Linked DNA regions of Homo sapiens: all the other regions are linked to region 1. Evidence: fine-mapped expression QTL. A gene starts in region 1. Each other region holds a variant in brackets. All regions are shown on one strand. Distances are from middle to middle. Region 1 holds the start of DNTTIP1 (deoxynucleotidyltransferase terminal interacting protein 1). Region 2 holds the start of TNNC2 (troponin C2, fast skeletal type). Region 3 holds the start of UBE2C (ubiquitin conjugating enzyme E2 C).

The links. PIP is the estimated chance that this variant, and not a neighbour inherited with it, causes the effect.
Region 2: its variant is fine-mapped to the expression of DNTTIP1 in blood mononuclear cells (TOPMed, PIP above 0.99).
Region 3: its variant is fine-mapped to the expression of DNTTIP1 in ileum (GTEx, PIP 0.96).

What each region holds. Positions count from the first base shown.
Region 1 is chr20:45,788,167-45,796,343 of GRCh38, forward strand. It overlaps DNTTIP1 (deoxynucleotidyltransferase terminal interacting protein 1), which reads left to right and starts at 3,788. Exons shown (of 13, transcript NM_052951.3): 1 at 3,788-3,943; 2 at 4,511-4,581; 3 at 5,755-5,851; 4 at 7,179-7,277. The coding sequence starts at 3,839. It overlaps WFDC3 (WAP four-disulfide core domain 3), which reads right to left and starts at 3,717. Exons shown (of 7, transcript NM_080614.2): 1 at 3,666-3,717; 2 at 1,728-1,816; 3 at 765-893. The coding sequence starts at 1,809. RefSeq lists silencers at 3,871-4,140, 4,351-4,490.
Region 2 is chr20:45,824,285-45,832,461 of GRCh38, forward strand. TNNC2 (troponin C2, fast skeletal type) reads right to left here and starts at 3,028. Exons shown (of 6, transcript NM_003279.3): 1 at 2,962-3,028; 2 at 499-550; 3 at 211-354; 4 at 8-122. The coding sequence starts at 2,964. The variant C/T (reference allele first, on the strand shown) is at 3,711.
Region 3 is chr20:45,811,979-45,820,155 of GRCh38, forward strand. It overlaps UBE2C (ubiquitin conjugating enzyme E2 C), which reads left to right and starts at 666. Exons shown (of 6, transcript NM_007019.4): 1 at 666-818; 2 at 1,459-1,486; 3 at 2,406-2,492; 4 at 3,563-3,767; 5 at 3,876-3,935; 6 at 4,731-4,974. The coding sequence starts at 718. The coding sequence ends at 4,789. RefSeq lists a silencer at 469-658 and an enhancer at 6,637-7,285. The variant A/G (reference allele first, on the strand shown) is at 3,149.

The DNA.
Region 1 (8,177 bases):
GTGGCACATGCCTGTAAATCCCAGCTACTTGGGAGGCTGAGGCAGGAGAATCACTTGAACCCGGGAGGCAGAGGTTGCGGTGAGCCGAGATCACGCCACTGCATTCTAGTCTGAGCAACAAGAGCGAAACTCCGTCTCAAAAAAAAAAGAGAGAGAGAGAGAGAAAATAGTGCCTGGCAACACCCACGGGCACAGCAGAAGGGAAAAACAGAAAAAGGAAGTCCTGAGATTTATTTAAGCCTCTCAACCCTGGTGCTAAGACAAAGAGACAATAATAACAACAATAGTAATAGCAAATATTTACTGTAACATTTACTGACGTTTACCTTGTGCCATGAACATCTTATTTGATCCTCACAATTATCCCCATTTTATAGATGAGGAAACTGAGGCTAAAAGCTTAAGATTTATAAAGAGCTAAGGCTTAAGGCTTAAAAAGGTCTGCTTGGCTCTAGGGTCTACTCTCTTAATCATTATCTTACACAGCCTTCCCTTTACAACTCTTCCCTCCAGCCTTCACAGGAACTTTGAGTCCAAAGTAAAAGACATAGATAATCAATGGTGCGCTCTTTCCTGATGGAAGGCAAACAACTGGGGGCACTGAATAATTAAAGGAGGAGGGACCCTAAAAGAGTAAAGAAGAAGTACTCTAGGCAAGGGAGACTTCCAGAGGCAACCTAGAAGGTGGGAAGCTCTCTACTTCCATCTATCCCAGAGGCAATGTCAGAGAGTATGCCCAGATTTTGCCCCTCATGCCAACATACCCTTAGGAATGTCTCGGCAGATCCGACCACAGCCTGTGGTGCAGCACTTCTGTTCAGCCGGACACAATTCATCACCCTGGCACAGCTCTTTGCATGGGTTCTTATGGGGAGGGCATTCTCCCTCTTTTGCTGCAAAAGATACTATTTGAGTTTGGGGTAACTAGCCAGGCCTCAGAAATGGGGAATGGACCTTCAGCCCCTCCAGGCATCTCTATCCAAAATATTTCTGCACCACTGCACTCTAGCCTGGGTGACAGAATGAGACCCTGTCTCTTAAAAAAAAAAAAAAATTCTGGCTGGGCACGATAGCTCATGCCTGTAATCCCAGCACTTTGGGAGGCCGAGGCGGGCGGATCATGAGGTCAGGAGATCGAGATCATCCTGGCTAACACAGTGAAACCCCATCTCTACTAAAAATACAAAAAATTAGCTGGGCGTGGCGGCGGGCACCTGTAGTCCCAGCTACTCGGGAGGCTGAGGCAGGAGAATGGCGTGAACCTGGGAGGTGGAGTTTGCAGTGAGCTGAGATCACGCCACTGCACTCCAGCCTGGGTGACAGAGTGAGACTCCATCTCAAAAAAAAAAAAAAAATTCTGCAACCACCTTCCCCTCCTCATACACAAATACTAACATATATCCACCACTGCTAAAGGAGCAGCCATCCTGCAGATAACGAGAGAGAAAGGGTGGGATGATCCTGTTCTCATTTAATGAGTTCTAGGGAAAAGCTAGAACCTCTAGTAAGCCCAACTGGAAGTCCTATCTCCTTGTCCAGAGAGGGTAAAGAAAGCCAGGAAGAATGACCCAGGCCATCCTGAGAATCTATTCATCCAGTCCTGTCCTATAGAGATGATCATCTCCACTTACAAGCAACCTTGCTCTGGGAGAAGGCAGGGGATGAGTTCTCCTCTCCTCTAGTCACTTTCTGTTACTGTTGGCCAGGGATCCCAAATGATAGCTCACCATGTTCTCCTGCAGTTATCCAGGATTCCAGAGACCCAAGAGCAAGAAGTGCCTTCAGAAGAAAGAGGCAGCTTAACATCATGATGATGCTGAGAGTTGGGACAAGAGCTCAGTTCAGGCTAGAGGTGTACACCTTGCCCAGAGTATCAGCTGAGGTATGAGCAGGACTAGGGATGGCCCCAAACCCAGTCCCAAAACCTTCCCTTTCACAATACTCCCCAAGAATATCTTCTCCTGACAAGAAGAAGAGGGATTGGCTGCTGGAGTGTGGGAAAATTCCTGGCACTACCAAAGGGGACCTGTGATGGGAGGATCAAATTCTGTAAGCAATATACACAATATTCCTGGATGATGAGAAACCTAGTGGGTGGCTGGAAAAATGGAGGGGTGGCCATTGGAAAAAGAATCAAAGAGAGCCCTAAAGGGCATTGGAAGGACATGGCTTTAGCCCAAATAACAGAGGGAGGGATTCACGACACTACTTAATGGCCAAAGCTAATAACATAACCAAGCATAATAAAATTGTGGCTCCTGTTCATCCTAGCAACCAAGAAAATACAGAATGGAACAGACCACTCAGAAACTATCAAATAGGCCAAGGCGGGCAGATCACCTGAGGTCAGGAGTTTGAGACCAGCCTGGCCAACATGGCGAAACCCTGTCTCTACTAAAAATACAAAAATCAGCTGGGCATGCTGGTGCATGCCTGTAATCCCAGCTACGTGGGAGGCTGAGGCAGGAGAATAGCTTGAACCCAGGAGGCAGAGGTTGCAGTGAGTGGAGATCATGCCACTGCACTCCAGCTTGGGTAACAGAGTGAGACTCTGTCTCAAAAAAAAAAAAAAGAGAGAAAAGAAACTATCAAAAACCTACAGAAAAGCAGTAGTTGAGTTTGTTAAGAACTAATGAAAAGCACCAAACACCTACATCTTTGTCCCTCTAACCCACACAGGCCATTCTTGGACTGTATGAAGTCTAGCTGGCAGAACCCAAGAGAAGTTGCTATGTATGACTCAAATAGTCTGCCCACATATACCTCCTTTATTTCTTTTTTCTCCATTTCTTTTTTTCTTTATCTGTCCTGGTCATGCCTTTGGTTAGCTGTGATACCTAATGGTGTCCACTGGCACTGCTTAGTCCTATGGGCAGGTACAAGGTAAAACCTCCTTAATAGGATCAAAAAGTTTGGAGCCAGGAAGTCGCCCTTATGGTTAGAAGGCTGATGTTGGCTCATGGAGATAATTAACATTTGATGATGACCTCATATGTGCCTAATATGCTTTTTTTTTTTTTTTTTTTTTTTTTTTTGAGACAGAGTCTCCCTCTGTCCCCCAGGCTGGAATGCAGTGGCGCGATCTCGGCATAATTAACATTTGATGATGACCTAACATGTGCCTAATGTGCTTTTTTTTTTTTTTTTTTTGAGACAGTCTCCCTCTGTCGCCCAGGCTGGAGTGCAGTGGCGTGATCTCGGCTCACTGCAACCTCCGCCTCCTGGGTTCAAGAGACTCTCCTGCCTCAGCCTCCCGAGTAGCTGGGATTACAGGTGCCCACCACCACGCCCGGCTAATTTTTATATTTTTAGTAGAGACGGGGTTTCGCCATGTTGGCCAGGCTGGTCTCGAACTCCTGATGGCAAGTGATCCTCCCGCCTCGGCCTCCCAAAGTGCTGGGATTACAGGCGTGAGCCACCGCCCCTGGCCGAGCATATTAAAATCTAGTTTTCAAAAACTGAACTGCAGGCGCCGCTGTACCAAACGCTTCCCTCTGCTCCCCAACCCCAGCCTACAGAAAACTGGTCCCTTCCTCCTACCCCGCAGTCATCCCCAGGCCTTGGCCCAGCGGGAAACATCCCTTGACTGAACCGCCACTGAACACCCACACTGCACAATCGAGGCGCAGCCCTCCCGAGAGGAAGCCCCAACGACCTCCACCTACAAGGCCTCTAAGTGTAACTGTCCTGGGCGAGGCGCGGCGGTTCGGTTCCCATGGTAACCCCGCAGCTCCAGCGTCGCGCTTCCGGGCGGACGAGCAGCGCGCTCCAGTGACGTCACGGCGCCACTTTCCGGCCGGTGACAGAGTCCAGCGGAGTTGTGGGGGCCGGGGGCGCCATGGGAGCCACTGGCGACGCCGAGCAGCCGCGGGGACCTAGCGGGGCCGAGAGGGGCGGCTTGGAGCTGGGGGATGCGGGCGCAGCGGGGCAGCTGGTTCTTACGGTGAGGGCGCCCCCGGTGAGGTCTGGGCTCAGGCCGGGCACGGCCTCGGGGCTCCTGGGACCCTGGCCCGCGGGCGAGAGAACGCGGAGGCTGGAGCTGCAGAGGGGGTTGGCGTTTTCGCAGCCCGACGACCTGGATTTAAATTCTGGTGCCGCCCTCCTAGCTAGGTGACGTGGGCCATCTCTGTCAACCCCCTGAGTCCCAGGATCCTCTTCTATAAAATGGAAATGATTAGTACCTGTCTCATAAAACTTGTTGTGGGATGGGAAGATAAAGGCGGGTACAACGCCCCGGACATCACCTGACACAGAGTTGACCCTCGGTAAATACTGCTTCCCTTCCTCCTGCCGTGCCAGAAGGCAGGGTCGGGACTTTTAAGGCAGGAAACTTCCTCAGTTCCTCTTTTGTGGAGGAGGCCTTACAACTATCGTCCCACCCCAAGGCGGGAGAGATGGTGACGGATCTGAGAAGCAGGGATGTCCAGGTTTAACTTCATACCCACCCTCCACCTCCACCCCACCCCAGTGTCACAGGCCGCAGTGACATTTGTTCCGTTGGTCCCCACAGAACCCTTGGAACATAATGATAAAGCACCGGCAGGTGCAGCGGAGGGGCCGCCGCTCACAGATGACAACAAGGTAAGGCTGGCCCTGCATGGGGCTTATATCCCAGCCACTGGCTTGCATGGCAGATTTGGGATCCCCAGTGCACAAGGCTATGGAGATCTACAGCCGGTAGAAAGAGCACAGGACTGAGGAAGAGGAGACTCCGATTCTGTAACTCTGTGTGATCTTGAACTAGTCAAGTCACTTCCTTCTCTGAACTCACGTACAAAATGGGGAAGGGCACAGGAGATGGGTTGTGGAATAAACAATACCTAAGATCCCTCACATTCACTGGCTCTGTGGTTGAGGGCTCTAAAGAGGTCAGTTAGCATGGAGTTTAAGAGAACAGGCTCTGGAGTCAGACAACTGTGTTCTCATCAACAGACTCTGATGAGCCCGTTTTCTCAACTATAAAGAGGGATTAATAGTATGCATGTCAGGGAAGGGAGAGAGCACAAGGTGGGCCTTTGGGATGCTGATAGTGGTGAAATGGATGTTCACTATAATTACTCATTAAAGTGTATAGACTTTTCTGTATAAGTATTATATTTCATAAAAACACTTTGGGCCGGGCGCGGTGGCTCACGCCTGTAATCCCAGCACTTTGGGAGGCTGAGGTGGGTGGATCACCTGAGGTCGGGACTTCCAGAACAGCCTGACCAACATGGAGAAACCCCGTCTCTACTAAAAATAACAAAAAATTGGCCGGGCGCGGTGGCTCACGCCTGTAATCCCAGCACTTTGGGAGTCTGAGGCGGGCAGATCACCTGAGGTTGGGAGTTCGAGACCAGCCTGACCAAAATGGAGAAACCCGGTCTCTACTAAAAATACAAAAATTAGCCGGGCGTGGTGGTGCACACCTGTAATCCCAGCTACTAAGGAGGCTGAGGCAGGAGAATTGCTTGAACCCAGGAGGCAGAGGTTGCAGTGAGCCAAAACCACGCCACTGCACTCCAGCCTGGGCAACAGAGTGAGACTCCGTCTCAAAAAAAAAAACTTTGAAAATAATATGCACTTCATAGAGTTATTATGAGAAAGAAATAAAGTCATGCCTCTGTGATTTGCACAAAATCTGAGCATGTAGCTAGTTTTCAATAAAAGCTGTCTAGTATTGTTAAGGAATTCTATGTCCATAATTAACTGGGGAGGCTGGGAAAGAATATGTTTGGGACATGCCCCCTCACCCTGTCTCCCTCCTGAATGCAGTTTCACAGATCCTGCCATCTCCATGGATCTCCTCCGAGCTGTCCTGCAGCCCAGCATCAACGAGGAGATCCAGACTGTCTTCAACAAGTACATGAAGGTGAGAGGGACACAGGATAAAAAATAACAGGAGAAAGACTCATGAGGAGCCCAGTCCTTGCCTGCATCACCAGTCTGTCTCTTTCCTACATACAGATATCTAAAGTTTTCCTTTCTTGTTGTTTTTGTTTTGTTTTGTTTTGTGTTTTTGAGACAGATTCTCACTCTGTCACCCAGGCTGGAGTGCAGTGGCACAATATCGATTCACCGCAACCTCCACTTCCCAGGTTCCAGCGATTCTCATGCCTCAGCCTCCCTAGTGGCTGGGATTACAGGTGCCCACCACCTTGCAGGGCTAATTTTTGTATTTTTAGTAGAGACGGGGTTTCACTGTTGGCCAGGCTGGTCTCGAACTCCTGACCTCAAATGATTTGCCTGCCTTGGCCTCCCAAAGTGCTGGGATTATAGGTGTGAGCCAGGGCACCTGGTCAGTTTTCAAATTTTTAATCCCCCAAGAATTTTATTCCCTCCTTGAGGGTAATTCAGATACCTTTTTTTTTTAAAATCTGCCCTTGTCACGCACGTGGTTTTTTTTGCTGACCTCTTATAAGGATGAAGTGACTTAAATGTACTGTGCTGAGCACTGTGCTCCAGACATAACAAGTGTCCAATAAGTATTCTTATTAGTTGTTTAATAATATAACCATTATTGGGGCCATGCACAGTGGCTCACACCTGCAACCCCAGCACTTTGGGAGGCCGAGGCAGGATCACTTGAGGCCAGGAGTTTGAGAACAGCCTGGGCAACACAGTGGGACCTCATCTCTACTAAAAAAAAAAAAAAATTTTTTTTTTTTTTTTTGAGACAGAGTCTCACTCTGTCGCCAGGCTGGAGTGCAGTGGCACGGTCTTGGCTCACTGCAACCTCCGCCTCCTGGGTTCAAGCAGTTCTCTGCCCCAGCCTCCCAAGTAGCTGGGATTACAGGCATCCGCCACCACGCCCAGCTAATTTTTTGTATTTTTAGTAGAGACGGGGTTTCACCGTGTTAGCCAGGATGGTCTCGATCTCCTGACCTCGTGATCCGCCCACCTCGGCCTCGCAAAGTGCTGGGATTACAGGTGTGAGCCACCGCGCCCGTCCTGATTTTTTGCACTATTTACACCTCAATCTGTTGGGCACCCCCACGATTATATCCGTAAGAGGGGGAATAAAGGGAGGAGGTCAAGCCTGAAATGTGAATCTAAATCTGGCTGATCCCAAAGCCCTGCTCATAATCACTTTTCCCTTCTGTATGAAGCTAGGATAAAGACTTATTTTATATTCAGTTTCCTTCAGGTTGATGCACATTAACAGGACTCTGACCTTGTCCTCTGTTGTGCTCCCCTAGTTCTTCCAGAAGGCAGCACTGAACGTGCGAGACAATGTTGGGGAGGAGGTGGACGCAGAGCAGCTGATCCAGGAAGCCTGTCGGAGCTGCCTGGAGCAGGTGAGACCAAAGGGGACAAGAGATGCAGGCACAAGGTTTAGCTCTCGAGCCTCTGATAAGAAATGCGATCTTAAGCCGGACGTGGTGGCTCACACATGTAATCCCAGCACTGTGGGAGGCCAAGGTGGGCAGATCACTCAAGGCCAGGAGTTTGAGACCAGCTTGGGCAACGTGGCTAAACCCCATCTCTACAAACAATACGAAAATTAGCTGGGCATGGTGGTGCACGCCTATAATCCTAGCTGCTTGGGAGCCATAGGCACGAGAATCGCTTGAACCTGGGAGACAGAGGTTGCGGTGAGCCGAGATGGCACCACTACACTCCAGCCTGGGTGAAAGAGCAAGATTCTGTCTCAAAAACAAACAAAAAAAGAAATGTGATCTTGTCATCAGTGGTATTTTGGGGAATGCCCAGCAAGCCACATATTGAGATAGGCTTGAGGCTGTTGCTGACAGGGAAAGGAAGGGAAGTAGCTACTATATGTCAGGTACCAGGATAAATGCATTATTTTTTTTTATGTCTCAGAAGAAACTATGTACAGAAGATATCTTTTAATTACTATTTTATAGATGAAGAAATTGTGACTTAGCAAACTCATAGAAGCAGAGAGTAGAATGGCAGTAGCTGGAGGGGAGAAGTGGGGGGATGTTAATCAAAGGGTACAAACTTTTAGTTATAAGATGAACAAGTTCTGGGCAATCTGATGTACAGCATGATGACTATAGTTTATCTCTATTGTTTACTTGAAATTTGCTAAGACCATAGATCTTAAGTGTCCACACACAAAATGGTAGTGGTGGATGTGTTGATTGATTTCATTGTGGTAATCATTTCACTATGTATATCTATGTCAATTCATCACATTGTACACCTTGAATATATACCATTTCTGTTTATCA
Region 2 (8,177 bases), 36 kb after region 1:
AGCGCACCTGTCGAAGATGCGGAAGCACTCGGCCAGCTCCTCCTCGCTCTTCCCTTTCGCGTCCTCTTTCATCTGGCGCACCATCATGACCAAGAACTCCTCGAAGTCGATGGTGCCGCTGCCTGCGGGCAGCAGGTGGCAGACTGAGCCTGAGCCCAGCCGCTGCCGCCTCTCCCCACCATCCCCTGCCTCCGAGGGACACCCGCTCACCGTCCTCATCCACCTCCTCGATGATGGCGTCCAGCTCCTCCTTGGTGGGTGTCTGGCCCAGCATCCTCATCACCGTGCCCAACTCCTTGACGCTGATGTCCCCACCACCATCAGCATCAAACATGTCAAAGGCAGCCTTGAACTCTGCGAGGGAGGGCAGAGGGCAGAGGTGAGGCCTGCTGGACTGTCAGCCTCACACCTACCCCCCCCCAACCCCCACCCTGCCTAGAGGCCAACATGTCCCCAGCATACATCCACCCAGCCCCCAGCCTGCCGCGCCTCACTCACCAGCGATCATCTCTTCGCTGAGGTAGGACCTGGCCTCAGCCTGCTGGTCCGTCTGCAGGAGACACAGAGAAAGTCTGAGCTGAAGAGGCAGCCCCAGAGCAGTTCCTCACCTCAAAGCCATTCTTCCCAACCCCCACTCTGTCAGCGCCCTTGGTTCTCCAGAAGAACAACTTCAAACTTGTCACATAATTGTGTGCCCGCACAGCACCCAATCACAGTTTTGTTTTGTCTCGTTCTGTCACACATGCTGGAGTGCAGTAGTGTGATCATAGCTCACTGCAGCCTCAACCTCCTGGGCTCAAGCAATCGTCCCACTTCAGCCTCCTGAGTAGCTGGGACTATAGCATACACCACGCCTAATTTTTAAAATTTTTTGTAGAGATGGGGTCCCACTATATTACCCAGGCTGGTTTTGAACTCCTGGGTTCAAGTGATCCTGCCACCTCGGCCTCCCAAAGTGCTAGGATTACAGGCTTGAGCCACTGTGCCCAGCTTCTGACCCCAGTTTTTGTTTTTGCTTTTTGTTTTTGTGACAGTCTCGCCCTGTCGCCCAGGCTGGAGTGCAATGGCGTGATCTCGGCTCACTGCAACCTCCACCTCCTGGGTTCAAGCGATTCTCCTCCCTCAGCCTCTCGAGTAGCTGGGATTACAGGCATGCGCCAACACGCCCAGCTAATTTTTGTATTTTTAGTAGAGACGAGGTTTTACCATGTTGGCCAGGCTGGTCTTGAACTCCTCACATCAGGTGATCCGCCCACCTCGGCTTCCCAAAGTGCTGGGATTACAGGCGTGAGCCACCATGCCCGGCCTGACCCCAGTTTTTTTTGTTTGTTTGTTTTGTTTTGTTTTGAGACGGAGTTTTGCTCTTGTTGCCTAGGCTGCAGTGTAATGGCACGATCTCAGCTCGCCACAACCGCAACCCCCACCTCCGGGGTTCAAGCGATTCTTCTCCCTCAGCCTCCCGAGTAGCTGGGATTACAGGCATGCACCACAACGCCCGGCTAATTTTGTATTTTTAGTAGAGATGAGGTTTCTCCATGTTGGTCAGGCTGGTCTCGAACCCCCTACCTTAGGCGATCTGCCTGCCTCAGCTTCCCAAAGTGATGGGATTACAGGCGTGAGCCACCGCGCGCAGCCTGTGACCCCAGTTTTGAGCAAAAGAGAGGAGACAACAAGTTAAGCCCAAGGCCTTCTCACTTGTCAATTGAAGGCCAAGTCGGGAACCCCCCCCACCCCCCAGTGACCTTAGGCACGTCAATTAGCGTGCCTTCATCTTTTCTCTGTAGCTTTTCAGGGATGAGATATCAGGGGTGTGAAAGGGCTTTGTAAAGGGCTAGCACCATTCCAGCACTATTTTCCAGTTTTCTGCAGCTCCTAATGGTGCCCGGTACTTTAATAGTTGCTCAATAAAATGTTTGTTCTCAAATAAATAATAATGCAACACAAAGTTATTGAGTACTTGCTGCATGTCAGGCCACAGATCAGGCACTGGAACCACAAAGAAGAGATAAAAGACACATCATCCCGCCCCTCAGAGAACTGGCAGAGTCGGAGGCTGTCAGCTTCCTTCTTAGGATTCAGTCATTGGAGAAAAGGCCCCTCATGGGGGGCCGAATGTGATGGAGGCCTTGACATGAAAGTGAGATTTCTGCAGGGGTTTCCACGTCATATCCAAGCCAGGCCATCTGGGTCAGAGGCTTTGGATTGAGGCTGGCAGTGAGGACAGGGTGAGGCTTCCAAGGAGCTCTTCAGCCAGCTGGCCACCAGTGCTCCTCCTTCTCCCCCTCCTTCCTCTCCTCCTCTTTCCCTATGCCAGGAGGGCAGGCTATTTTTAGTCAGGCATGGGCAACAGCAGCTGGCCTCTGGGATCTAGTTACTCCTTGAAGTGAAGTGGGGAGGGGGATCTCAGACCAAAACAACAGCTCCAAATCAGAAGCCCTCTCTAGGAGAGCGGAGTCTCTCTAACTCTGGTCTGTCATCTTCTGCCCCTTCCCATCATCCTCAGGGCTCCCAGAGCCCTGCATCTGAGCAGGCCCCACGCCCTGCCGGCCTCCCGTCTTCTGGAGGAGGCTTTCTTCTCTCCATGATGATAGGAGGGTTTGGCCAGGCTTCTGGCTCACCCCTGCCACTGGCCTGCTGGGTGACTCACTCTGACCCCTCAGAGTCCCCACTGTGTGAAGGAAACAAGCTAAGAGCTCTTCACAGGTCTATGAATGACACTGCTGGAAGTTTCCAGAAGTGAGTAGGCAGTCAGCAAGCCTTAAGGATCAATCTCTGGAATATCCCAGCCCTCCCCTTTCAAGAAAAGTCAAAGGCCTTCCTCCAAGACACCTGGGTTCCAGGAACCTCCATGCTCCAACCTCAAACATCCAAGTTACTGCCCCACAGAGCACCCAGGCCTGGCCTGAAAGGGGTCCAGAGTGCTCCCGTGAGTAAAGGCACAAAGTCCCCTCTTGTCCTTACCATGGTTGCTGGTGACCGGGACTCCTCTGTTGCAGGTCGCCTCCTTTGCACTCCACCACCCAAAGATGACCTGGCCTGCTCTAGCCCCCGGGATTTGTAGGGGCACCCTCCCCTCCCACCTCCCTGCTCCCCAGCACTGGAGACCCTGCCCAATCAGATCCTGGGGTCAGCGAGTCCCACCCCTCCCACAGTCTGAACCCATTACCTAATTTAGCCAAGGGCCCTTGCAGAGAAATTTAAGCCTCCAAGCAGGTGGCAGGCCTTGACGTCCTAGATTCTTGTGAGGAAGGCCTGCCCTGTTCCACTGCCTTGGAGTCCCCCCGACCGAGGAAGCACACTGGCTCCAAGATGGTAAGGATGATCAGAGTAGTAAAGGGTGAGGCAGCATGGTAAAATGGGGAGAGTACAAGCCTTGAAGTCCAAAACCCAAGATCCAAGGCCAGCCTCTGCGAGTTGTGTGACCTTGGGCCGGTAGCAGTGCCTCTCTGAGCCATTTCTTCATCTGTGGGATTGGACCTGTCTGTGGGGTCTCCCTCACAGAGAGACCATGGTAAATGGGAACCCGGGTATAAGTCACCTAGCTTGTGCTGGGTACACAGCGTTGGTGCTTGGCAAGAGGAATGTCCCGTCTTTGAACCATGGTAAGGGGCAGGGGATAGGAGGAGAAAGTGACAGGTAGGCCACTGTTTACTGAACCCCATGACGTGCCACACACTGTGCTAAGCATTTTAACATGATCTCATCTAGTG[C/T]TCCTCCTATGAGGTAGCAACGATTATCCCCACTTGACTGCAGAGCTTTGTAAATTATAAAGGTCTATACTCACTCTGTCACCAAGGCTGATGTGCAGTGGTGCTATTATAGCTCACTGCAGCCTCTATCTCCTGGGCTCAAGTGATCCTCCCACTTCAGCCTCCCGAGTAGCTGGGACTAGAGGTGCACCACCACCCCTGGCTTTTTTTTTTTTTGTATTTTTATAGAGATGGGGTTTCACCATGTTGCCCAGGCTGGTCTCGAACTCCTAGGCTCAGGGGATCCTTCCACCTTGGTTTCCCAAAGTGCTAGAATTACAGTCATGAGGCACCATGCCCACCCATGTTGATGATTCTTATTATTAATCCTGACTGGAGGGAAGTTGGGACAGACAGTCCTTGGGGCACCTGTCCAGATGGAAAAATGTATGGAGGGATGGAGGAGAGGAGGATGTGCATTTGGAGGAGAAATAATCATTGAAAGCAAAGATCCTTCTCTGAAAGTTACCTTCTCCAGGGAAAGGGTGTTTGGATTCACTTTTTTTGAAGTAAGGAGTAGGCAGGGGAAGGTTCTTTAAGTGGTAAAAGGACAGCTGGCCCCTTCCTAGAGCTCAGTGAAGAAATCTGGTCATCTGGGGAGTAAAGGGGTGGGCAGACCAAGTCCAGAGGGAGCCCAACCTGAGAATCCACAAGGTGCAGGCTGGGCACTGGGGAGTAGGCAAGGCTTGTAGACAGTGGCTACGTGGACAGAAAGAGCACCAAGACAACCGATAGCAGGCTCTGGGGCCAGGAAAGGGGGGCTGGACACCAAGGAATGCAGATGGACAGTGGCAACTGGGCTGCCCCCTTCCCCTATATATAGACATTCCCAAGGAAAGCTCAGCAGGGCTGGGCCAAGCTAAATAAGGCCTCCCCCAGGCAGGCAGGGTGCCAAAGGGTGAGGGAGACCCATGGGATTCCAATTTAGTTTTTATTGTTTTTTGGTTTTTTGGGGTTTTGTTTTTGAGACAGACTCTCACTCTGTCACCCAGGCTGGAATGCAGTGGCACAATCTCGGCTCACTGCACCCTCCGCCTCCTAGGTTCAAGTGATTCTCATGCCTCAGCCTTCTGAGTAGCTAGGATTACAGGCACATACCACTACGCCCAGCTAATTTTTGTTTTTGGTTTTTTTTTTTTTTTTTTTTTGAGACAGAGTTTTGCTCTTGTTGCCCAGGCTGGAGTACAATGGTGCAATCTCGGCTCACCACAACCTCCGCCTCTTGGGTTCAAGCAATTCTCCTGCCTCAGCCTCCCGAGTAGCCGGAATTACAGGCATGAGCCACCATGCCCGGCTAATTTTGTATTTTTAGTAGAGACAGGGTTTCTCCATGTTGGTCAAGCTGGTCTCAAACTCCCAACCTCAGGTGATCCGCCCACCTCAGCCTCCCAAAGCACTGGGATTACAGGTGTGAGCTACCACACCCGGCAAATTTTTTACTTTTTGTAGAGACAAGGTTTCATCGACCGGGCACGGTGGCTCAGGCCTGTAATCCCACCACTTTGGGAGGCTGAGATGGGCGGATCACGAGGTCAGGAGATCGAGACCATCCTGGCTAACACAGTGAAACCCCATCTCTACTAAAAATACAAAAAAATTAGCCGGGCATGGTGGTGGGCGCCTGTAGTCCCAGCTACTTGGGAGGCTGAGGCTGAGGCAGGAGAATGGTGTGAACCTGGGAGGCAGAGCTTGCAGTGAGCCGAGATCACACCACTGCACTCCAGCCTGGGCAACAGAGCAAGACCCCGTCTCAAAAAAAAAAAAAGTTTCATCATGTTGGCCAGGCTGGTCTCAAACTCCTGACCTCAAGTGATCCGCCTGCCTCAGCCTCCTAAAGTGCTAGGATTACAGGCATGAGCCCCTGAGCCCAGCCTTTGTTCTTTTGTTTATTCAAGGGATTAGGTAAGGCCCAAATTGCTTAATGTAGCCAAGCAAGGTCCCATTGGCCCTTCTAATCTCACTCCTTCCCTCCACATCATGTTGCTGTCTGCTCTGATCAGACTTTAAAATACTGCTCTAGGCTGGGCACGGTGGCTCATGCCTGTAATCCCAGCATTTTGGGAGGTGCAGGCTGGCAGATCACGAGGTCAGGAGTTCGAGACCATCCTGGCCAGCATGGTGAAACCCTGTCTCTACTAAAAATACAAAAAATTGCTGCTGGGTGTGGTGGTGGGCGCCTGTAGTCCCAGCTACTTGGGAAGCTGAGGCAGAAGAATCACTTGAACCTGGCAGGCGAAGGTTGCACTGAGCCAAGATCATGCCACTGCTCTCCAGCCTGGGCGACAAAAGGAGACTGCATCTCAAAAAAAAAAAAAAAAAAAAAAAGACTACTCTAAACACCACCTTCTATGAACCTTCAAGCCTTTGCACATGCTGTTTTTTTCTGCCAGAAACTCCCATCTTTCCTCTCTTCATCTGTCTACTTCCCTATCATCTTTCTAAGCTCTAACATCACTTCCTCGGGGATCCTTCCCCCACTGTGTCCAGACCAGGGAGTCCAAGGTGGTCTCTAGTAGTTTCCTCAATCATAGCACTGAGCATACCTTATGCTCACAACCCATTCTATGTTCTACAGATCATCACATTTCCCAGTGCTCAGCACTTGCTATGTAGCAGGTGTTCAACAGATATTATATTCTACATAAGAATAACTGAACTGGATGGTATTTAGTTCAATATAAGGGGGAACTTCCTAATAGTCATAGTTGAACAATAATGGGAACAGGTGGCCTCAGGAGGTAATGAGCTCCGTATCACTGAGTATACCCAAACAGGAGCTAGATGACCATTTCTCAGGGAGGCTGTAGGGAGATATCCATACAGAATTTAAGAATGGGGGCAGTGGCTCACACTTTTAATCCTAGCACATTGGGAAGCTGAGGCAGGTGGATCTCTTGAGCCCAGGAGTTCAATACCAGCCTGGGCAACATGGCGAGACGCTGTCTCCAATTAAAAAATTAAAATAAAACAAAGAATGGTGGGTGGTAGCTCATACTTGTAATCCCAGCACATTGGGAGGCAGAGGTAGGAGGATCTCTTCAGGCCAAGAGTTCAAGATCAGCCTGGGCAACATGCAACCCCACCTTTACAAAAAATAAAATACTAGCCAGGCATGGTGGGCACATATCTGTAGTCCCAGATACTTGGGAGGCTGAGGTGGGAGAATCACTTGAGCCCAGGAGTTTGAGGCTGCAGTGAGCTATGATCGCACCCCTGCACTCCAGCCTCACAACAGAGTGAGACTCTGTCTCTGAAAGAAGAGGCCGGGCACGGTGGCTCATGTCTCTAATCCCAGCACTTTGGGAGGCTGAGGCAGGTGGATCATTTGAGGTCAGCAGTTCGAGACCAGCCTGGCCAACATGGTGAAACCCCATCTCTACTAAAAATACAAAAATTAGCCGGGTGTGGTGGCACATGCCTGTAATTCCAGCTACTTGGGATTACTTGTAATTCCAGCTACTTGGGATTACTTGAGGCAGGAAAATCGCTTGAACCCAGGAGATGGAGGTTGTAGTGAGCCAAGAGTGTGCCATTGGACTCCAGCCTGGGTGATGGAGTAAGACTCTGTCTCAAAAAAAATAAAATAAATAAAAATAAATAAAAAAGGAAGAAGAAGCAGGAGGAGGAAGAAGGAAGCAAAAAGAAGAAGAAATAATAATAGTGGAGAATGCGCAACCTTCAGATCTCCTAGTTCTGACTGTTTATATGACCCAGCATAAGCCCTTCCCCTCACTAAGCCTCAGACTACCTATCTGTAAAATGGAGGTGATAGGCCAGATTTCTGAGGGGCCCTCCTGCTCTAACAACCCATGGTTTCATGAAGACCAGCTTTGTGCCCAGACATGTAAGGCATATACCGAAGGACAAGTTATTTTTTAACCAATGGTTGGTGAATGAGTGAGTGTTGAATTAATGAATGAAGTATGCCTTTTTTGTCCCAATATCTTGCCCATAAGCCAAATGAAGAGTAATTCGAGGTTTGAAATTGTGCAAACTGGCCAGGCACAGTGGCTCACGCCTGTAATCCCAGCACTTTGGGAGGTAGAGGCAGGTGGATCACTTGAGGCCAGGTGTTCCAGATCAGCCTGGCCAATATGGTGAAACCCCACCTCTACTAAAAATACAAAAATTAGCCGCATGGTGGCACATGCCTGTAGTCCCAGCCACTCAGGAGGCTGAGGCAGGAGAATTGCTTGAACCTGGGAGGCAGAGGTTACAGTGAGCCAAGATTGCATCACTGTACTCCAGCCTGGGCGACAGAGCAAGACTCTGTCTCCCTCTCTAAAAATAAATAAATAAATAAATAAAATTGCACAAACTTAGGCTTAAAATCCCAGCCCCTCTATTTCCCAGATGTGGATCTTGGGGAAGTCACTTTGCCTCAGTTTCTTCATCTTGAAAATGGACCATTAATGTCCAGTTACAGCC
Region 3 (8,177 bases), 24 kb after region 1:
GCTCAGGCTGGTCTCGAACTCCTGGGTTCAAGTGATCCTCCTGCCTGGGCCTTCCAAAGTGTTCGGGATTACGGACGTGAGCCACTGCGACCAGCCTGAACCAATGTTGCCTTTTTTTATTTCTGTCATCTCTGCGGAGATGTATGGACCTATGTTTTCTAATAGGGAGCCTGCTGCTCTGGCCATCAGCCTTTAGTTTTTCCCCTCGCTGGGATTTTCAGATACTTAGGACGCAGCAAAGGTGCCCAGGCGATTATAATGGTGGGAGGGTACCAGTGCTGCAGGATTGGAGGCACTCCCTGCCCGAGGGAAATTGGATCAAGGCTGGGCGTGCCGAGTGTTCCCACGCGGAGTAAGACGTGTAGCCAGAAGGAGGGGTTCATCCCACGTGGACGTTTTCTTGGCCCTTTAATGGTTAGCGTTTTCCAACGGCCACCAATTCGCTACGGATTCGTTAGTTAATGGCAGCATCATCTACCAATCGGTTGTCAGAAGCGGGATTCTGCCGCCCAATAGCGGTGCGCCAGTGGGTAGGTCTAGCAGTGGCGCAGCAATAGAGCGCTCCGGAGCGTCTCATTGGCTGGATCAAACCCAAGCGAGCCATTGATTGGTCGACGCCCCCAGAGGGTTACAATTCAAACGCGGGCGGGCGGGCCCGCAGTCCTGCAGTTGCAGTCGTGTTCTCCGAGTTCCTGTCTCTCTGCCAACGCCGCCCGGATGGCTTCCCAAAACCGCGACCCAGCCGCCACTAGCGTCGCCGCCGCCCGTAAAGGAGCTGAGCCGAGCGGGGGCGCCGCCCGGGGTCCGGTGGGCAAAAGGTGAGTGATGCGGCCTACCACTCGCCGGGCCTGCCATGCCCTAGGCATTGGTACCCAGAGCAAAGATTTCTAGGACCACCCCCCGCCGCCACCTCCTGGAGCGGGAGATCTGCGGGTGCAGGAGAACACACCAGGAGCTCGGGGCCTGGCATTCCCCTGGGCATGGGTGTCGAGGGCGGAGACTTCCGGGACTCCCACCTCCTTGCGCGGGTGAGATTCGAGAGATGGGGGACAGGCCAGGAGCTCAGACCGCTCTTTGAGACTCTCCCGAAGGAGAATGGGAGGGTAGGGGCGCTGCCAGACTCCTTCCCTGGTGGGCCTAGATGAAGACGCTCAAGGACCCTCGTGACTTGGCCGAGACAGGGGAAGGGAGAAGTTGAGTCGGGCAAGGAAGAGATGCTAAAGCCTGGGGAATTAAGAACATGCCAGAATCATCCCGAGGGAGTCTGGAATTAGGGAGGGTGAGGACTCGCTAGGATCGTCCTGTGGATCTGGTGAGTATACCCTGAGCTGAGCCTGACCTTGGTGATGTGGGGAGCCTCCATGACGGCTCCCCCTGAGATTCAGGTGGGAGAAGATGCACCGTCTGGAGGCCTGGCCCATCCAGACTCCCAGGTAACCCCGAATACTCTTTTTTCAGGCTACAGCAGGAGCTGATGACCCTCATGGTGAGTGATTAAGTGCCCAGAACCCCAGCCTTCCATCCAATTTTCAGTAGCCTCCTTTTTTCCGTCAGCTTTTTTGCTAGACATAGGGGTAATGTAATTTGCTCCCTCCTGGGAAAGAAGTTCATACACCCCACCTACACCATTTCTTCCAGCAGTCCCTCCTCCCAATTCCATCCCCCCACACGAAGTTATCTCGAACACTTCCCTGAAGTCATACAAGACCCTCCCTATCCAGTGTGTCCCTACTTCCTAGCCCCAACCAAGCTTTACCCACACCCAACTCCCCGCCCTTCTTGGTATTTCTAGCCTATGAATTTGGTTGCTTTATTTTGGATCAGAGTGATGAGATTAAGGGGAGGCTGGGCGCGGTAGCTCACACCTTATAATCCCAACACTTTGGGGGGCTAAGGTGGGCGGATCACTTGAGGTCAGGAGTTCGAGACCAGCCTGGCCAACATTGCAAAACCCTGTCTCTACTAAAAATACAAAAATTATCCAGGCATGGTGGTGCATGCCTGTAATTTCAGCTACTCGGGAGGCTGAGGCACAAGAATCATTTGAACCGTGGAGACAGAGGTTGCGGTGAGCCGAGCGCACCACTGCACTCTAGCCTGGGCGACAGAGTGTGTGTGTGTGTCTGTCTCTGTCTATCTCTCTCTCTCAATCTCTCTCTCTCTCTCTCTATATATATATATATGTAAATATATATTTTTTAGTAGAGATGGCATAACCCCATCTATATCTCATATATATACACATATATATGTGTGTGTGTATACATATATATGTGTGTGTGTGTATGTGAGCATATATATATATATATATATATATATATAAAATTAAGGGGAAAGCTCACCCACTGACCTTTGCTATGCCCAAAAGTGTACTCCACATTCCAACAAATGTGTTTTCTCCCCAGATGTCTGGCGATAAAGGGATTTCTGCCTTCCCTGAATCAGACAACCTTTTCAAATGGGTAGGGACCATCCATGGAGCAGCTGGAACAGTAAGTGTAGGGCTGGGATGGGTGAGTGAGTCTGGGGAAAGGTGGGAAGTGAGATCCAAGTGCGAGCTCTGCTTCAAGCCTTTGGCGGAGCAAGACACTCCTCCTGTGACTGTTTACATTCTCTGAGCCATGTGGCCTTGTTCTTTCCCTCTGTGCAATAAAGGGTGGGTTTAAAGCAGGGCTGCCTATCTTAGATGTTTACATGGGGGGACAGACAGCAAGGAAATGGATGAAGTGAGGACTTTGGCCAATAGGGCCAGATCTCAAGAAGGCAGCTTCCCATTGCTGCAGATCAGGTTTAAGATGAGTCAGAAGTCCAAATCTGTGCCAAATCTAATTTTTACGTATTAGCAACTAATATTCTTTTTTTTTTTTTTTTGAGACGGAGTCTCGCTCTGTCGCCCAGGCCAGACTGCGGACTGCAGTGGCGCAATCTCGGCTCACTGCAAGCTCCGCTTCCCGGGTTCACGCCATTCTCCTGCCTCAGCCTCCGAGTAGCTGGGACTACAGGCGCCCGCCACCACGCCCGGCTAATTTTTTGTATTTTTAGTAGAGACGGGGTTTCACCTTGTTAGCCAGGATGGTCTCGATCTCCTGACCTCAAGATCCACCCGCCTCGGCCTCCCAAAGTGCTGGGATTACAGGCGTGAGCCACC[A/G]CGCCCGGCCAGCAACTAATATTCTAATTGAACTAAAGCACAGGATGCCAATTTACAATCCTTAGACCAAAGAGTCACTGATGTCTCCACCAGATAAGAGGAAAGCATCAGGCTAGGCATAGTGGCTCACACCTGTAATCTCAGCACTTTGGGAGGCTGAGGCAGGCAGATCACATGAGCCCAGGAGTTTGAGACTGGCCTGGGCAACATGGTGAAACCCTGTCTCTAAAATAAAAACTAAACTAAAAAAACTTTTTAAAAAGGCAGTGGGGAGCATCAGAACCAGCTCAACAGTTTGTCTACTGTCCGGTCCCAGAGAAACTCAAGATTCTAGCAAGCCCCTTGTGTGGGGCTTGGGTTGGGACATGAGGCTGCTGCTGGAGCTTACTCTGCAACTGTTTCTCCAAATGCCAGGTATATGAAGACCTGAGGTATAAGCTCTCGCTAGAGTTCCCCAGTGGCTACCCTTACAATGCGCCCACAGTGAAGTTCCTCACGCCCTGCTATCACCCCAACGTGGACACCCAGGGTAACATATGCCTGGACATCCTGAAGGAAAAGTGGTCTGCCCTGTATGATGTCAGGACCATTCTGCTCTCCATCCAGAGCCTTCTAGGAGGTGACTTTAGAGACCACCCCTCCCCTCCATGCAACTTGGGAACCTGTCAGGACTCCCTGGGGTCAGCCTCTTCTACCGCCTTGACCTTCTCTTTCTCTCCACCCACAGAACCCAACATTGATAGTCCCTTGAACACACATGCTGCCGAGCTCTGGAAAAACCCCACAGGTGAGTCCTCAGTCCTTGAGCCCAGGGTGATCCCTCCCCCAACCTTCAAAGGCTCCCTCAAACAAAAGGAGCCCAGTGACTTGGGACCGGGTTGGTTGGGGCAGGGTGGAGTGTCGGCAGCAACCCACTTCTGTTTCTGCCCCAGTGCTCCTATTTGCTATAAAATAGCAATTGTTTTATAGCAGAATAAAAATGTTTGGCGATAAATAATTTTGGGAAATTATTGGTGAGACCAAGGCAGGAGGATAGCTTGAGGCCAGGAATTCAGTAGAGTGCCTTGCCTGTGCCCTCCAGTCTCACTGGAAGCAAGCCCTTCCAGGAGAGCTGCCTAGATGGGCAGTGCAGGGAGAATGCCGGGCTGGGAAACCAGCCCCTCCTCCACCTCCTCCGACCTTTGCATCCCTGGTCCAGCTGCCTCTTGCCCACCTTAATTCATCCTGGGCCAGGCACAGTGGCTCATGCCTGTAATCCTAGCACTTGGGGAGGCCGAGGTGGGTGGATCACATGAGGTCAGGAGTTTGAGACCAGCCTGGCCAACATGGTGAAACCCCGTCTCTACTAAATACAAAAAAAATTAACCGGGTATGGTGGTAGGCACCTGTAGTCCCAGCTACTCAGGAGGCTGAGGCAAGAGAATCACTTGAATCTAGGAAGCAGAGGTTGCAGTGAGCAGACATCATGCTATTGCACTCCAGCTTGGTCAACAGAGTGAGACTCCATCTCAAAAATAATAAATAGTAAAGATTAACTCATCCTGTCTCCATCACTCACTGAGACCTGCCTGTTCTCTTCCAGCTTTTAAGAAGTACCTGCAAGAAACCTACTCAAAGCAGGTCACCAGCCAGGAGCCCTGACCCAGGCTGCCCAGCCTGTCCTTGTGTCGTCTTTTTAATTTTTCCTTAGATGGTCTGTCCTTTTTGTGATTTCTGTATAGGACTCTTTATCTTGAGCTGTGGTATTTTTGTTTTGTTTTTGTCTTTTAAATTAAGCCTCGGTTGAGCCCTTGTATATTAAATAAATGCATTTTTGTCCTTTTTTAGACAAGTTGTTGCGTTGTAATTTCACTAGGGTTGGAGGTACTCAGGGTAGGCAGAGGTGGAACTTAAGGATGTGGGGCCAAGCAATGGGGTGACAAAGATTTATTCCCTTGTACCTTATTTTATGACTCTGCATCTGTTTCTTCATCTATAAAATGAGTGTCACAATAATGCCTCCTGTCTATGGAGTCGGTGATGTGTACCAGCAATGTTAGTGAATGTTGGAGCTCCCTCAGCTGTGTTGCAGATGAGGCTGAGCCAGACCTTAGGCTGAAACCTACTCCTATAGCTGTAGAAGGAACAAGCGTGTGTGTTGGGGGGGGGATCCCAACACACAGCCACCCATGTTCTGTCCTGAAGAAGAATGCTTAGGTCACCCTAAGCAGGTCCAGGGCCTGGGGAGACAGCCAGGAAAAAAGCCCCTTCCCTGGCAGGACTCAGGTCTGAGCTCTGGTCTCCAGGCTCTAGCCCAGGTCCCCGGTGGAGCTCCACCTCCAAGGGGGCACAGTCGCCTCCTGCTGCATATCCCCCAGGGAGCCCCCAGCCCCTTGGGCTGCCTCTTTCCCCTGGCCTGATGAAGGCTCCAGTCTTTGAGCCCCTAGGAGGAAACACCCCTGCTGACCAGCTGGGTCCCCACAAGGGTCGGCAGGTGGAAGAGTAGGTTGAAGTGATAGGGCCCCCACAAAGCCCTTCAGGAAGATCTCCAAGGTAGATAAGCAGCATCCAGATGTGCTCCAACCTTGCACCCAACTCCTTCAGGTCTGTTAGCAGCTGGTTGGTTGTGCAAGCCTGAAGCGGGAGGGGTTTGGGATTGGAAGTTGGGTCCCTTCATGTCTATAATTGTGCTCTTAGGTCTCTCCTCTTGGGTTTTTTCTTAATCTAACATTCATACAAATACACTTGGGATCTTGTTAAATTCTTTTCTGTAGGTGTGAAGTGGAGCCTAAGATCCAGTCTGTTTATTTATTTTGGTTTCTAAATAGTTTCCAAGTGATGTCATTGCTGCGGTCTGCTTAAGAACAAAATTTAGAGCAATGTTCTTAGAATGTGGTCCTTCCAGCAGCAGCAGCATCACCCGGAACTTGTTAGGCAAATTCTTGACCCCAAACTGCCCTCCAGGTTCTGAAGGTCTCCCACGGTTGAAAATCACTAGGTTAGCGGATACTGGAGAAAACCAGAGCTCAGAACCTGGCACTAAATTAGTCAATATATGCTGGCCAGGGCCGGGTGTGGTGGCTCACTCCCTGTAATCCTAGCACTCTGGGAGGCGGAGGCAGGAGGATTGATTGCTTGAACTTAAGAATTCAAGACCAGTCTGGGCAACACAGTGAGACCCCCATCTCAAATAATAAATTTTAAAAGAAAAATAAATAAATCTTGGCCGGGCCTGGTGGTTCACATCAGCAATCTCAACATCTTGGGAGGCCAAGGTGGGAGGATCACTTGGGGCCAGAAATTCAAGGTTATAGTAAGCTTATCACTCCAGCCTAGGCAGCAGAGTAAGACCTTATCTCTAAAAGAAATGTTTCGAATACTAACTGTGGTGGATGTGTTTTCATCTGCCATGTGGTCCTTGGTCACGGTGTTTGGTACCTTAGATGGCCACATGGCCTGCCTTGGGCCAGTCACAGGTCTAAACTGTAGTTCAGATTCAACTGGTGTTGTCTGGAATTAATCACTGGGAGAGAGTAAAGTTATTTTACTAATGGGGTTGCTAAAAGAGAAGGGAGTCAGTCTCAGCTGCTGGGGGAGCCCGCTGCAGACGGAAGAAAGCCAAGTAGAGACAAACAGCTGGGAGTCGGAGAGATGACATTAACTGAGACTCTGGCCTCCAGTTCATGCTTTGCCATCCCAGTTCGATAAACTAACAAATCCCTTTTTGGTTTAAGTCCGTTTGATTTAGATTTCTGGCACTTGCAACAGAAAGAAGCCTGGTCAGGAAGTATTTGAATTTCTGGTTATTATGATTCCCATTTTATTGAATTCCTACAAGACAAAGGCCCTCTGCTTGGGGCTGGGGACAAAACAGGGAAAATACAGCTCTGCCCTTAAAGAGGCTGGAATTTGGGGGACAGACAGGCCCATCAACAGCGGGGACTGCGGAATAAGTGCCATACAGCCCAGTTATTAAGCTCAGACCAGTCTGGGCACGGTGGCTCATGCCTGTAATCCCAGCACTTTGGGAAGCCAAAGCGGGTGGATCACCTGAGGTCAGGAGTTTGAGACCAGCCTGACCAACATAGTGAAACCCCGTTTCTACTAAAAATACAAAAAATTGGCCAGGCATGGTGGCGAGTGCCTGTAATCCCAGCTACTCGGGAGGCTACGGCAGAAGAATCGCTTGAACCTGGGAGGCGGAGATTGCAGTGAGCCGAGATCGTCCATTGCACTCCAGTCTAGGCAACAAGAGCAAGACTCCATCTCAAAAAAAAAAAAAAAGAAAAAGAAAAGCTCAGACCAGGTAAGCAGAACTGTTTCAGGATCCTGGCTCCACCTCCATGTTGCCCGTAAACATGTAGGCAGTTACATTTAACCTCTCCGTAAAATGAAAATACTGGTACCTACCTCATAAGACAGTGGAAGGACCTTAGAACAATGCCTGGCACATAGTAAGCACTGAATAAATGTTGGTGCTGAACTCACATATTGCTATGTAAGTTCACAGGTGGAGCACCCAATAGAATAGGAGGGTCAGGGAAAGGTTTTTGGAGAAGGAAATTGAGCCCTGAGGGAGATGCACATTCCTTGGATAGCAAGAAGTTCAGGAGTATGTAAGGAGAGGAATACAGAGCTAGGCGTGGTGGCTCACGCTTATAATCCCAGCACTTTGCAAGGCTAAGGCGGGCAGATCACCTGAGCTCAGGAATTCAAGACCACCCTGACCAACATGATGAAACCCCATCTCTACTAAAAATATAAAAATTAGCCGGGCATGGTGGCAGGCACCTGTAGTCTCAACTACTCAGGAGGCTGAGGTAGGAGAATCGCTTGAACTCGGGAGGCGGGGGTTGCAGTGAGCCGAGATCACGCCACTGCTCTCCAGCCTGGCTGACAAGCACAAAACTCTGTCTCAAAAAAAAAAAATAATACAGGATGGGGAAGTCGCATAGATGTCAGGTCATGATAGGCTGGAAGGCCATATTAAGGTACTTGGGCTAGCCTTGGTAACAAAGTGAGACTCCATCTCTACAAAAAATAAAATAAC